Regions from separate parts of the Homo sapiens genome. Here region 1 is linked to region 2. Evidence: fine-mapped expression QTL. Tissue or cell type: B cells. Region 2 holds a variant in brackets; the other region holds the start of a gene. All regions are shown on one strand. Distances are from middle to middle.

Region 1 (8,144 bases), 620 kb after region 2:
AGAATAGCTAATGCATGCTGGGCTTAATACCTAGGTGATGAGACAATCTGTGCAGCAAACCACCACGGCACACATTTACCTGTGTAACAAACCTGCACATCTAGCACATGTACCCCGGAACTTAAAATAAAAATTGAAGAAAAATAAAAGTAAGAGTTACAGTTTTCAGGAAAGTAATGGAAACTAAATGACTACCGTTTCATACAAACTGAGTTTTGTTCAAACTGCTTTAAAATTTGATAATAATCTCTTAAAGTTTCTTTTCTACTTTTCCATGAGAAACAGCTTTGCTAGTGCAAAGTTTGATTATGACTTCTATTAAACCATTAATTGTAAAATGCTAACTTTATTCAAGATGCTACATATTTTGCCTATTTTTAAAAATTATTTTAATCTCCTAAGCAGGCTAATGAACATTAGTTCTTAGTTTCAAAAGAGAAGCTTACCTAAGAAAAAGTTATTTAACAAATATGACAAGATATATTTATTTCTTTTTGATTTTTCTTTTAGAAAGACAGGGGTCTCACTATGTTGCCCACCCTGGGTCTTGAACCCCTGGGCTCAAGTAATTCTCCCACCTGACCTTCCAAATTGCTAGAATTACAGGCATGAGCCACCATGTCCAGCCCAACAAGATATATTTCATAAACCTTAAAATGAATTACATTTTTAAAATACAGTGTGAAAGTTTTTCTTTAACTCATTGACAAACATTATTTTCTATTTTCCATAAGATTTCCAAATATGCCCTACACCTAGGCCATTTTTTTTTCTTTCCTAATATTTACCTTTTGTCAGCTTCTCATTGCTTTCAGTACTTCCAAGTTCCCTAAAGTTATTATCAACAATCTTCTGCCTCATTATTGGTCATTGCCTGGACCAACAACTCCCAAAAGAAGCAGAACAACCCCTTAGGGACATTCTGAAAGTACGTGAGGCCCTGTTTGGTTGCACAATAATTTGAATAGAAGGGAGGGTATTTGGTGGATGGGGGACCATTGATCGTAGAAGTCCTAAAATATATGAGACAAGCCTGTGTAACAAAAAACTGTTTGCATCCCTCAATTTTAAAAGATTAAGTAGGTGAAAAGTTTATGATAATCTTAGTCCAGAACTTCATTATATATAAATATATCATTATTACACTGTTTTAGTACAGACTGAATCTTCCATAAGTGCAAGTGCCATGTAAATTGAGGGAGATTCCACTGTTTTGTTCAAGTTTTTACCAGAAATTGTTCACCATTTAGGAGAAATAAGTTTGTAAAGAACAATGGTCCTTCTGCTACTTGAAAAGCCAATATAATACATTTGATAAACAATTTGCATTGGTAGCTGTCACATACACAGTGATTCTACAAATTGGTGTAATATGACAGCAACTAATAATTACTTCATTATGTTTTCTAATGTAGTAATGTCTAAGTATTTACATATTTAAATTGTAGACATGTTAACATGTTATTTTCTTTTTTTTGAGACAAAGTCTCGCTCTGTCGCCCAGGCTGGAGTGCAGTGGCATGATCTCCGCTCACTGCAACCTCTGCCCCCTGGGTTCAAGCAATTCTTCTGCCTCAGCCTCCCTACTAGCTGGAATTACAGACTTGTGCTACCATGCCCAGCTAATTTTTGTATTTTTAGTAGAGACACGGTTTTGCCCTGTTGGCCAGGCTGGTCTCGAACCCCTGACTCAAGTGATCCACCCACCTCAGCCTCCCAAATTGCTGGGATTATAGGAGCGAGACACCGCTCGCAGCCTGTAGACATGTTATTGTCTAATAAAATATTTCACCTTTATGTCTCAATTAAAGCATTATATTGATTATTAAAAGTTATGTTTACAGGTAGATTTTATTGTCTATGAATCTGACTTCAGGATTTCAGGATATTACAGGACACAGACAGTTTGAGAATCACTGGCCTACACTTTAGCCTTCAAGTACCTGGACTACTAAAGATGCTTCCTATGTGGTACTCTGGATTCTGTAAACTCTCTCCTCTTCCAAGTAAAAATACCTACACATGTAAAAGTCACCAATATTAGTTCTATCTTCCAATTACCACAGCTCCCAACTACCTTGAAAGCCTGATACTCGGATTTTTACGACTCTCCACAAAAGGATTACTTCTGCCTGATCTTGTTCAGCTGTATCATACACTGAATACTATATCCAGAAATCCTTATTTCTAAGGAGTCAGCAAGTCATAAGGGAAAAAGTGTAGCATTTGGAATCGTAGATCTGCCACTTACCAGGGATGATCCTGGACCAGTTACTTAAAACTTTCTAAATCTCTACTGCCTCATTTTTTTTTCTTTGTTGGAGACAGGGTCTAGCTCTGTCTCTCAGGCTGGAGTGCAGTGGCGAAATCATAGCTCACTATAACCTCAACTCCTGGGCTCAAGTGATTCTCCCGACCCAGCCTCCCAAGCAGCTAGGACTACAGGCTCACACCACCACACCCAGCTAATTTTTTTTTTTTTTTTTTAGCAGAGATGGGGTCTCCTGTGTTGCCCAGGCTGTCCTCCAAACTCATGGCCTCAAGTGATCCTCCTGCCTGGGCTTCCTAAAGCGCTGGGATTACAAGCCTAAACCACCACTTGGGCAATATTTCATATTGAATGTTGAAAATTACCATGCAACTGTGCATATATCAGGTTAAAGAAAATACATGGTTAAAATCAAACCCACCTGTTTCTCTTCAGTTGTTTAATATGGCTACAAAAAACTTAAAAATATGCCGGACGCGGTGGCTCACGCCTGTAATCCCAGCACTTTGGGAGGCCGAGGCGGGCGGATCACGAGGTAAGCAGATCGAGACCATCCTGGCTAACACGGTGAAACCCCCGTCTCTACTAAAAATACAAAAAATTAGCCGGGAGTGGTGGCAGGCGCCTGTAGTCCCAGCTACTTGGGAGGCTGAGGCAGGAGAATGGCCTGAAACCGGGAGGCGGAGCTTGCAGTGAGCCGAGATCGCGCCACTGCACTCCAGCCTGGGCGACAGAGCGAGACTCCGTCTCAAAAAAAAAAAAAAAAAAAAAAAACGTAAAAATACGTATGTGGCTCACAATATGCTTCTGTTGGACAGTTTTCTGTTAGACCCTTCCTTTTTCCAGCTCTACAGTTCATCCTGAATACACCACTTGGAGTTTCCAACTGGGCCCTGTTTCTGTGCCGGAGACTTTGGAGACAGTAGTCCTGGTACCCGAAACACTTTTTCCCCTTCTCCTTGCTGAATGGACTGTTTTTATTCATTCAGATCTTAATTTTTAACTACAGCTTTCTCCAAGAAGCGTCCCTGATCCCACCACGTCCCCTGCAAGACGTTTTTAGGGCCTCCTATGAGATAGGAAAATCCACATACAGCACTTATTTTACTGTATTTGCAATTGCCTGTTTTCTGGTTTGTGTCCCAGACAAGACTGGAAGCTCCTTGAGGAGACAGATCCTCAGAACTGCTCCGTCTTCCACGCCCAGGCGTCAAAGCCCAGCACAAAGCGGTCTCTCCACTGAACAAGTGAGCGCTAGGGCACAGACCGTGAGCGAATGCGGGGGAGTACAAAGGTTCAAGGGTGAGGCGGTAGAGGGGGCTGAAGCAGAAACTACAAGGGAGCCAGAGAGGGGTGGGGGCCGCTGGCAGGACTCACCAGTCTCTGCTGGTCGACGTCGGCGTCTGGCCGTTTGGCCGAGGGCTGCAAGTACTCAGCGTAGCGCAAACTCTCGCCAACTGGAGCGATGACACCACGGGCAGCCATGGCAAGGCGGCCCGGAGACTCAAGGCGCCGCGGCAGTGACTACGAGGCGGCCGTAGGGACAAACTAGTTAGCGCGGTTTCTTCTCGCAGATCCAGTGGACTCTGCGCTCGTTGTGCTATTAAAGGCGAGGTTCCCGGAAGATACCCTTCTCACCCGAGCTGGGTAACGTGTCCCGTGCAAGCACGGGGTCACACTCCGAAAGGAGCCAAGGGCACTGGGACGTTCTTGAATCACACTCACAGGCGCAAAGCCAACGCGGACCCTCAGGGAGCTTTATATACTTGGGCCTGGTCCCTCCCCAGGCCGCCGTAAGGGACTGGGCTTAAGCCCTGCGAACTGATGTTGGTCGAATCAGATGACTGCCCAGTAAGCTCGGAGTCTAGCTGTAGTGCCTGAGGGTGGGCTTGCCTGAGCTTTCCTGACCCCCTTCCGGGCAGCCTTTCTTCCCACTCTCAACTTCTGTTCGCACTTCTGTTTAATGCCACAGTTCTACCACCCCGGGAGAGAAATTAAAGAGGCAATTTGCTTACTCCACCCCCAAGTAAATGGCTGTATTTAAGGTGAAATTACACAGAAGAAAGTTGTGGCCGGGTGCGGTGGCTCACGCTGTAATCCCAGCACTTTGGGAGACCGAGGCGGGTGGATCACACCAGCTTGGCCGACATGGTGAAACCTCGTCTCTACTAAAAATACAAAGATTAGCTGGGTGTGGTGGTGCGTCCCTGTAATCCCAGCTACTCAGGAGCCTGAGGCAGGGGAAAAAAAGTTGTGAGCAAGTAGGTAAATCTTACTCTCCCTCAAATGAGTTTGTGCTGATTTGTATATATAAAAGCCCATTTTATTATTAAGCTTTTTTTTTTTTTTGAGATGGAGTCTCGCTCTGTTGCCCAGGCTGAGTGCAGTGGCGCAATCTCTGGCTCACTGCACCCTCTGCCTCCCGAGTACCTGGGATTAAAGGCACGTGCCACCACACCTGGCTAATTTGTGTATTTTTAGTAGAGACGAGGTTTCACCATGTTGGCCAGGCTGGTCTCAAACTCCTGACCTCAGGTGATCCGCCCGCTTCAGCCTCCCAAAGTGCTGAGATTACAGGCGTGAGTCACCGCGCCTGGCCTCCATCAAGTTTTTAGAGCAAAAATTAACCAGCAGTTGAAGCGTATGGTGTTTTCCAACTTCTGTACCAACGTGGCAGCTCTTTGGCTCCTTATACCCTTTGCAAAATCAGCTGACAGGAAGAAAAAGCTTTATTTTTTTTCTATTCCTGAATTTAAAGTTTTGAGGGTCTATTAATTTGTTCACTTAGTTAATATTATTAGCATGTCTAAGAAGTTAGGTCCTAGAAATTTACAATCTTGTAGGGAAGATAACACTGACACAGAATAATAGTACATACCAGAACATGAGCACATGCATTGCATAGCAGTATAAAGAGAACTGGACTGGGAATTAAACCGCCATTGCAAAATTACAACTGAGAAAGAGATCTGACCTAATCAACACCATCTTGCTTCTAACCTCCAAGCTGTCTTGTACATTCCTGGCCGTAGGCCAAACTAACTTTGGGAGGAATGTAATTCATAGTTTATAGTTTGAAACAAAGATGATAAAAGCCCTTTCCCAAAACAAACCTCCTTCTTGCCTGGGGACTAGACTGCCTTTGTAGGACTAACAAATTAGCCACAAGATCAGAAATTATGACTTAGGAGTCATGCAGCTGGAGGCTACAAGATTCTGACCCTCCCCAAATTGCTGCTGGAGCTAACATCACTATTGTAAAAACTACCACCAGTGCTTGAGATATTTTGCAGACCCCGCACTTGATGAATCAGCTGGCATCACCCAGATCGATAAACTGGCTCATCTGATCTCGTGGCCCCCACCCAGGAACTGATAACGCAAGACAACTTGGACTCCCTGTGATTTCATCTTTGACCTGACCAATCAGCACTCCCAGCTCACTGGCTTCCCCCTACTCACCGAGTTGTCCTTAAAAATTCTGATCCCCAGCTGGGCGCGGTGGCTCATGCCTGTAATCCCAGCACTTTGGGAGGCCGAAGGTGGGTGCATCATGAGGTCAAGAGAGTGAGACCATCCTGGCCAACATGGTGAAATCCCATCTCTACTAAAAATACAAAAATTAGCTGGGCGTGGTGGGTGCCTGTAGTCCCAGCTACTCGGGAGGCTGAGGCAGGAGAATCGCTTGAACCTGGGAGGCAGAGGTTGCAGTGAGCAGAGATCGCGCCACTGCACTCCAGCCTGAGGACAGAGTGAGACTCCGTCTCAAAAAAATAATAATAATAAATAAATAAATAAAAAATTCTGATCCCTGAATGCTCTGGGAGACTGATTTGAGTAATAATGAAACTCCAGTCTCCTGCACAGTCAGCTCTGCATGAATTACTCTTTCTCTATTGCAATTACCCCGTCTTTATAAATTTGGCTCTGTCTAGACAGCCAGCAAAGTAAACCCATTGGGTGGTTACAGGAATAAGGAAGACATCTGAGTTCTAGTGTACCTCCATTATTTTCTGGGCTTGTATAACTGAACATATCCATTAACCTCTCCAAATTACCTGTAAAAGGAGAATAACATTTGTCCAACATTCTGACTCAGGGAAGTTGTGCAAACAAATATAAACCTCAAAGAACCAATCCTTCAAGATGGATCCCAAGTGGCTAACTAGGACTAACTTAAAATAGAGCCAAACCTTCCTTTTACACTGAAATCTGTGGCTCTCAGGTTTGCAAACTGTTTATTGGGATAGTCTCTCTCCTCTAAATTCCTTTTCAGAGAACTTTTCATTTACATAGGGATAAAAAAGAAAACGACAGGATATGGAAGCAACTTGTATAATGCACTTATGAAAAGAATTACAACCATAGTGCTCTTGGACTTTACAGGAGGGAATGGCCACTTTTAACAGGGGTCATCAGAGAGGTTTAGTGAAGGCTTAGCCATTGAGATGAGGTAAAGAATGGGTAACATTTCTTTAGATGGAAGAGAGGAAATGCCAGAAATTTCAACTGGAAACAAATGGAAGGAAATGAAAAACACTGATTTATAGGACTGGGTAAAAAATATTCCAGGACTCTTCACAGAAATAATCTCATTACAGAAATTAATTTTTGTTAAACGGATCCACGACTATGAAGGACACTAGTAAACTAAGCAAATGAATTGGATCAAGGCCTACAGGTCATTCTTCCATTCATTTATTTATTCAGTAAATACTTATTGAGTATCTGTTAGATATGAAGAACTATGCTAGGCATTGGACCTATACAGTCAAACATACAAATAAGGTCTCTGATTCCTTGGAGTTTGGAGTATTCTAGTGGCTGAGCCCTAGCAGTAACAGGCTGCTGGCCTGAAACAAATGAACAATTAGAGCAAGACCCAGCTTAGCTTCAGCTCCTGTTAGGGCAGCTACTGCCCCTGCTCAGGAACTGGAGAGAAGCTTTCAGAGCAGAAGCCAGGAAAAGGGGGAATAGAAGAAGTGGGAAGGGGAGAATATAGCAAGGTGGAGGTGAGGTGGACTCAGCAGGGTTGCATGTCAGCTCAGACCCCAAACTATTGAGATCAGATAGCTGGCTGCTTGTAGACTCGACTGACCTCATTCCACTGCTGCCTCAGGCATCCGCTCTTGCAGATGTAGCCAATTTTAAAGAAAAATCTCATCCACAAAGATTACTTAGTTCCCAGCCTTTGGTTCTTTGGTAAATTCACCCTCCTCAGCAAAGAAAGGATGGAAAAAAGGGCCATGAAGTCCTTTCCTCTCCCCCACAAGGATCTCTTCCTGATTTAGTTAAACTCAATTTTCTAGCTTCTTGAGAACAAAGAAAAATATTTTTGTGAAACCCAAAAGGGAGGCCACATTAAATTTTCATTGGCCTACTTTTATTAGTTACGCCACTTCAAAGACAGATTACATTATGTTCAATAGACTTTGTAAAAGAAAGGCAGATTGCATTGGTAGTATGTCTTCGAAACATCTCAGTGGAAAATGTTCTAAAAATTTATTGTTTGAAAGGAATTTTAACAAAGACAATTGACCTCTCTGTGCCTCAGTTTCCTCATTAGTAAAGTAGGTGATAATAATAGCACCTCTCTTGTAGGGATTAAATGAGTTCACTTTTGAAAAGCTCCTAGAACAGTGCTTGATACTTAGTAACTTCTACAAAATTGTTAGTTACTATTTTCTTTATGTTACCTCTTTCACCGATTTATTTCCTTGTGTATTTTCTCTCACTAGCTCTGCCTCCTTCCCCCAGCAGTTGTGTTGATCCCCAACCAATTGTCTTGTCTTTGAAATTACAAAATCTGACTAACATCGCATAGTGATAAAATATAATTGTGGGAGAGGAAATAGTTGTTTTCATGAAAATGAAA
Region 2 (8,144 bases):
ATGGTGACTGGTGGATGGCAGAGTGATGAAGGCATGTGGAGCAGAGGAAAAGTTCAAGAGAGTAGGAGAGGAGGGTTGTCAGGTAGCAGGCCATAAGTCTGACTGTCAGGGAATCCTGGAGGGAGTAACTGAGGAGGGGATCCCAGGAAAAGCTCAGACTTGTTAGTCCATGCTTGGAGCTCAGAGGATTGGGACTTAGGCTGTTGCCTTAAATACAACATATCTGTAGCGCTAGGAGGCCAAGGGACTTTTGGTTTGCACTTGTGTTCTATAGTTTACAAAGTCTTTCTCATTTTGTGAGAACCCTCTGAACCAGGCAGTGTGTGTGCTACTTTTGACCTCAATTCATAGAGAAAAAATGGATTGATGCTATGTCAGGGAAATGTCTTCTTCAAGGTCATAGAGTTATTATATGATGAAGTTGGAAATCAAATCTAGATACTCTGGCTCTAAAACCTGAGCACCATTCTTGGAATCAGTGAATTATCAAAGTGTGAACTCTGCACCTCTCACCCCCAACACAAAAGCCATCTTACTAGATATTGTTTATTTGTAAGTTCATTATATTAACATATACAACACTAGAAATGGTTAGAGTAGCTTCAGAATTGGATTCATTTTATGCCTCAGCTTAGCCCCTTCTCACACAGTAAGGCATCTGTAGAACAAACTAACCAGGGTGTGAAGGTAATTTGCGTTGCCCTGCATTGTTTGCGTGTGTCTGGGAACTCTGGGTTGAGACAGATTACTTGGATGTTCTAGTTTTACTTTTATAGACAACCTATGAAAGGGGTAATTATGAGATGTAATTATTGACACTATGACAACCTGAATAAAAATTGAAGTTGTTTGTACTATTTTCCCATAGATATTAGAGCAAGACATTACAATAAATGAATTGAGTGGCCTGTTTTGTGTGTGTATGATTTGGATATCAGAGACCATCATTCCTACATGATATGACACTTTATTTGCCACCTTCACGCTTTGACATTTTTGTCATAACTAAATGTGCAGTAGAGACAGCTGTGGTCTGCGTAGGCTCTAGCACTGTGTCTGGGTCTAACCCTGAGCAATGCATTTGGTTTCAGAGCCAGTGTCGCTGATACAGGTTGCAGCCAGCACAGGGAAATCTATCACAGTAACAGCAATGTAGCCGTCACAGGGAGTCTAACCACATCCATATTCAGATAAGGAGAACGCTGAGTACTCTCACTGAAAATGATATGCAGGGACTCTGGGATAATGCTGCCTTTACACTGTTCATAAAATATGGTAAAAATAAAGCCTTAAAAGTCATGCTTGTGAAGAGTGGAGACAGGAAAATTAGAGTAGCAATTCACACAGCACACTTTTCCTTGGAGTGAGAAGTCATATCAATTTCTCAAAAACAGGTATTTCACCTCTTACAGCATCCATAAGAAGGCTAGGTCAGCCACGAGTTAGTGGCTTATGAACTCTCTTGGACCTTTGCTTAGCTGGCAAATGTCATTTCTTAGCCTTCCATCCACCCAAATCTGGGGTTTCTGTTTCCCCAGCTCTGCCCTCTGTGTTCTCTATCTCATCATCTTATTTTATTTTCTTCACAGCACTTTCTACTGTTTGCAGTTATCTAATTTATTAATTGGCTGCTTAATCTCTATCTGTCAGCTTTGAGTTGTAAGCTGCGTGGTTGCAGAAGCTGACCATGGCTCTCTGGTTCACTGTTGTTTTCTGTAGCCCAAAGAACAGTGTCTGGGCTGTGGTAGGTGCTCAATATGAATAAAAAAGATGAATCAATGAATGAATTGGTGAGTAAATACATGCTTTCCTGTTGCTTAACCCTACAGAATAGTCCCAGTACTGGGTTATGATCTTTCCCTAGTGGAAGAATCCAGAGATTCTATTGTTGCCCTAATAAATTACCACAAACCCAGTGGCTTGAACAACACAGATGTATAGTCTTAACAGTTCTGCAGGTCGGAAGTCCAACACAGTTCTCACTGGGCTCAAATCAAAGTGTCAGCATGGCTGAAGACTTTGGGGGAGATCCATGCTCTTGCCTTTTCCATTTTCTACAGGTCACACACATTCCTTGGTTGTGATGCCTTTCTGTCTTCAAAGCCAGCAATGGTGGGTCGAGACCTTCTCATTCTGCCATCTGTCTGGTTCTCTACAGCTGAAAAAGGTTCTTCGTTTTTAAGGACTGATGTGATTAGATTGAGTTTACTTGGAAAATACAGGATAATCTCCCATCTCCAGGCCATTAATCATAATCACATCTGCAAAATCTATTTTGCCATATAAGGTAACATATTCATGGGTTCCAGGAAATAGACGCTGGACATCTTTGGGGGTTTGGTGGTAGTCATCATTCTGCCTGTCACATGGATTTATTCACAAAGGGGGTATAGGGATAGTCAAGCCCAAAGCCTCATTTCTCTTCCAGAATGTATATTGCAGAACAGAGAGTCTTCCTAAGTCATTTATTCATTCCACAAGAAATATTTGTGGAACTTGTCACATTCTTCTTGATAATTTGGTTCCTGATGGCAGAGTGAGCCTAGATTGCTGTTTTGCAGGGTTGGATATGGAGACCCTGGGGAAGTTCACCTGAATTCCTAACCAAGCCTGACAATCAGAAATTGGGCTTCTAACCAGAAAGGGATCAGTGTGTCTAAAAGGGACTCAAAGCAGTTGTAGTGGTAGCAATGGTGGTGTCAGATACAGTAGTTTATTTATTTTATTCAATCTTTATAATAATCCTACAATAGAAGCACTATTATTATCCCCATTTTACACATGATGACACTAAGGCACACAAAGGTTAAATAAATTGCCTAAGTGACTGAGCCAGGAGTGACTGGCTAATGAGTGAATGAGACAGGATTTAAAATCTCAGGCAATCTAGCTCTTGACTGTGTTCCCTAACCACTGCACTTCCCTGCCCCTTACAAGGTCCATTAGAGAGTAGCCAAAGACGCCTCTGAGAGGGCCAGAATGGGTGCTGAGACCATCTATTGGCCTCCTTGGTTTTGTGAAGTAGAGAGAACATGGAATGGTAAGAAGCTTCTGCTTCCTTGGTTACCAGATCTGGGCCTGGATCAAGCCACTTCAATTCATTGAGCCTCTGTGAAGAGAAAATAGAAATTTTGCTTGTCTGCATCTCTAGTGTGGGAGAAGGATAAAACGATTATTGAGACGTGCTCTGTAAACGTTGCCCGTTACTATCTAGTGTTGTATCCATCTAAATGATGAGGCGAGAAGGGAAAGTGAGTATGATCACCTCAGTGCCCCAAGACTCTATCTGGCTTTTGTCACCCTGGGGTAAACTGGAGAGCATGATTGAGACATGAAATCTTCCCATATCCTCTGTGAGAGAGGGTGATTGATGACAGGGATTTACAGGTTAGCCTGTGACAGCATGTAATCAATCAGCGCATGAGAAGGATAGCTTGTCTTTGGTGTACAGATGACGATTCTAATAACCCAACAGTGGCCACCAGAAGGAAAAGACTCCTGCGCTTGTCTTCACTTCCTTCATTTCAGTAGCTGCAGAGTCGTCAGGCAGTCCCAAGAATTTCATGTATGAAGATGGTATTCCTTAGTTTTGCCCTAACTGCGTGAGCACAAGTGACAGCTGTGAGTTCTGGGCTTTAGAGGGAGGAGTAAAAATTTACCTTGGAGTTAGCCAACATCTGCAAACACTTATTTAATCAATCATATAGAGCTGTCAAGAGCAGTGAGGAGTCTGAGATTTTAACCTGCCTGTGAAGTAACAAGTTAGCCTGCCTGATTCATACATGCTCGCAGAAGACA[C/T]GAAACTCCTGGATCAGACATAAAGGATGTTACTGCTCAATGCACAGCAGGCAGCATGGGCTACAAGCTCTCATCTTGTAGAGCTTGAGGGGAACCTCCCTTGAGGGCAATGCAGAGGGGGCCAGGTGGTTACTTCATACCTGTTGGATCTGTGTCACAACTGAGGAACACAGAGTTTAGGAAATAACCAGTCTTATAAACTGTTTCTGGCACACTTGCCCAGCCTTTGCCCTGGAGGAAGGCATTATCTTTGACTCTTGCCAGGAAACAAAATTATCCTCTGTCCTGGAGGAGGAAGACATAATCTTTATCCTCCCAGGCTGTTTGCTTTACAGACATCCTTGAATAGTAGTCTGAGACAAAAGGTACCACAGGGTAGAGAATTGTCACCCAATAGAAACTAGTGCATAATTAGCTAAAATAATGACCATAAAAGGTGTTTTTTAAATATGTAAAATTTTACAAGTGAATTTATATAATCTGAATTCTGAGAAGAACTATTTTCTAATTCTTTTCACTTACTGAGTTCTACTAAATAATTTGGAATAGGGATTCAACCAAACTTGTTGCTTAAATACTCAATTTCCATGGAGTTCAGAACTTCCAATGAATTGGTGATTAATTGATATTGTAATGAAAGATTGTTTACATAGAATGTGCAAAGGGCATATGATTGGTTGTCTCTTTAATCACCTTTAGTTACAGTAGTAAATGAAAGTATACATTTTGTACTTTGACAATGGATGATGCCAATTGAATCTTATTAAAGACTTCTGTGGCCGAGCACAGTGGCTCATGCCTGTAATCCCAGCACTTTGGTAGGCTCTGGTGGCAGGATCAGTTGAGGCCAAGAATTCTAGGCTGTGCTGGGCAATATAGTGAGAACTTACCTCTCTTAAAAAAAAAATTAACTGGACATCGTGGCATGCACCTGTAGTTCTAGCTACTCAGAAGGAGTTTGAGATGGGAGGATCACTTGAGCCTCAGGTATTAGAGACTGCCATGAGCGATGATTATGCCACCGTGCTAGTCTAGCCTGGGCACAGAGTGAAACCCTTCTCTAAAGATATAAATAAATAAATATTTTGGCTAAGAAAAACACACATTTTTCTTTGATTTCCATCATGATTTTTTAGCCAAATTCTTAATGGGAAAACTATTATTTGATACATGTTTCTTTATATTTGATTTTTAAATTAATTAATTTCCAAAATATGTTATCTTTAGTTATGGTTAATATTACAGACCTATCACTGCCTACCCAGTGTGTGGTCAGTGACAAATTGAACCCAAGTAACTCGTATAATCTATGAGATAACCAAAACCCAGATATGTTTTTTAGGCTTAAACTTGGTATAAGACCTGAAAGGTACTGTAAATGTTGGAAGAGCAAGGATCCATGTTCTGCCTGGGTTGGTGTAGTACTGTGAATATGGCTTTAAAGGCAGCTGGATCTGGATTGAACTCCAACTCTGCCAATTCCTAATTCTGCAATTTAACTAAAATAGATGAGCCTCAGCTTTCTTATCTGTAAATTGTATATAATGATTACTACATAATAGGATAGTTATGCAGTCCACATGAAATAAGTTATTTGAAGCTGCTACCTTCCTTTAAAAATGTAAAGAGAATATTGAAGTCAGTGCAGGACCATTATAAAGTTTATTTGATTACTTTCAGCTTGGGTGAAGCTTTAAATTCTTAGTTAAATTCCTTCGCTAAAGCATTCACTTATTGTCTATTATTTTTCTAGTTATCTAGATGCATTGGGGAATTAAAGTCGTCATTTAAAAATCATCCCATGGATATCAAAAGCTCATAAATTGTTAGATGCTAATGGGAAAGTCAAGAATCTGCTTCAACTTATAATTGTAGGCGTACACAGAGCTATCTAGGGAAATGCAAGGGTTGCCTTAAATTCCCAGAATAAAATACTTTGCAGATTTCAAAATATGTCACTCACTATAAAATTAATTATTTACCAGCCACTCACATACTAATCAGGGTTGAAAGTATGAAAGACCACAGGAAAGAATGGATGGTTACCTTTCTATCACAAGTGCTGGTACTAAGAAATAATGATAACTCACATGTGTGTGTGATGCCCTCAGTTTTATGGGAAATCGGGAACTGAATATTTTAAAACTAATTACAATTAATTAAGATGACTAAAAGAGCAATGGCAGTTTGGGATTCTATTTTTACCAAATTAATCTCTCCAGTGAAAAGTAGGAGAGATTTTAGACTTGACAAACAACTTAAAAGCTTTGCGATAGGAATGGAATGAGAAAGCACAATGAGCAGAATAATATTTAGTGAAATTATGTACTCCTTAAAATAAGCAGCTACTGTATTTTGCATGTAAAGGTAGACATGACTGAAGAGGTAGGGAGATGAGGAGAGGAAAGTTAATGTGTTTCAGCATTAACACATGATGGAAGATAAATGCCTTCTCTTGGTATGTAATCTTGATTTGCTGCTACTATGTAGAAAATAGCACTATATCACAGTGCCAGCTTATATTGATATATATTTATGTATATATGGATATTTATATGTATGTGCATGTATATATATATGTGTGTGTATATATATATATATACACACACACATACATACATATACATGCACATACATACAGGATGTCTTCAGATTATATATAAAATGTTAAGGGCTTTACTTAGTGGAGATTGGGTTAAATATTTACTTCTTGCTAAGTATTGCCATATGCCTAAACTTTTAAAATAGTAGCTATTCCAAAGGAAGAAATCAAACTAAACAATTGGGAAGATATATCAAATCTAGTTTCAATTGGTGGTTCATAGAGATAACTGGATAACACTGATGTTACTTCCCTGTTGTCCAGCTCATACTAAATAGGCATCTGTCATGAATGGCCAGGGTGCTGTGCTGGATCTGTCATGACTAAACTGATCACGATCATTAGTCTGTCTTCTTAGTTCATTCACAGCCAGGAGGTAGACGGTGGGGGAACACAAACACTATGTACCTACCCTCGGTCCTTGGCATCCAATGTAAGAGGTGAAGTTTCTGAATCTAACCCCTGCCCTCAAGAACCTTATGATACAGTAGGGGAGCTTGCACATTTGTGCGACAGGACAGTTGTAAACATGTAAATCAATAACAATTTTTCTTTATAAATAAAAAATGTTTTGAGTTAATTTTTACAAGTAATATTTTTCCTACATAATTGTAATTGTTTTACTTTGAAAGACAGTGAAATGACTGTTTCTTCCTCTTAGTTTTCCACTTGTATTTTTCCTTACATTGGACTGTATGATCATGGACACAAATATTAATATTTCATGCCTTTCAGTACAAACATAGCTGTAGTATAAATGAGGAAAGAGAATATCAGCTTACGTGAAGGAAGTTCAAATTCTGAGCTCTATTAGGCAGGAAAATTGATATTCCATTAAATAGAGTAGTTGAGGCTATAGCACGTTGTCTACACAAAGCTGTAGGATCAGCATTTTTTAGATAGTATCATGGATGAGTAGTTAATTAAGTAAAGGAATCCAATCCCAGTGGGATCTTGAGGGAAATGAAGTCTATACTTTCCTCTCCTTGAACATTGGGGCAAATTGGTCTTTGATTCTGTTGAAGCCATCTCTTGGGTGCTTCTGCCCTAAGTTCTGCTTCTGTTACTTTGAAAATCCTTTTTGTTGAAATGACCTTAGTGTCAGTGACACCTATCAGCTAAATTTAATTGCTTTTCTAAAAATACTGTCCTTTTTTCCCAATAATTACTTCAACTCACAGTTAGTTAAAGCATAACATGTTGGAAACTTTCTTGTTTAAACTCTTCCTATTCTTCACCTTATTGGTTAATTTATTTATTACCAATGACCAACTCAGTGTGGGTAGTATTTTTCTCAGCTTCCAGCTCCCAGCTTTCTTTCTTGATATGGCTGAATTTTGAGATACTCAAAGCAAGCAGACCATAAAGAGAGACAGATAAAACTGGACCTGGGTGTTCATATGTGTATGTGTGATTGTGTGTTGGAGGGTTATTATCCCTTTTTAAAGAACTACTTATAGGATGGTGGCAGGACCTTTGAAATTGCAGGCTGAATTGATTATTAGCATATGTAAATTTGGGTAAGTTATTAAGCAACTTTCAAAGTGTTTTTGTTTTCTCTTCTGTAAAATTAGGATGATAATAATATCTAATGATCTTGTTGTAGATTAAATGATGAAAAGCACCTTACAAAGTGAGTGTTACGTAGTAAGTAGTCAATAAATGTTAACATGACTATTATCATCATGTTGTTTCTATCTTGATTATTTGTATTTTATAGCTTTGTCAAACTGAAAACTTCCTT

Evidence for each region. PIP is the estimated chance that this variant, and not a neighbour inherited with it, causes the effect.
Region 1: it holds the start of DNAJC15, and the variant in region 2 is fine-mapped to the expression of DNAJC15 in B cells (Schmiedel 2018, PIP 0.95).

Annotation. Positions count from the first base shown.
Region 1 is chr13:43,019,237-43,027,380 of GRCh38, reverse strand. DNAJC15 (DnaJ heat shock protein family (Hsp40) member C15) reads right to left here and starts at 3,795. Exons shown (of 6, transcript NM_013238.3): 1 at 3,647-3,795. The coding sequence starts at 3,754. RefSeq lists enhancers at 3,297-3,346, 3,857-3,906, 3,917-3,976.
Region 2 is chr13:43,641,890-43,650,033 of GRCh38, reverse strand. All of the region lies in intron 2 of ENOX1 (ecto-NOX disulfide-thiol exchanger 1), which reads left to right. Among named protein-coding and RNA genes, the nearest start is that of ENOX1, 140 kb to the left of the region's middle. The variant C/T (reference allele first, on the strand shown) is at 3,799.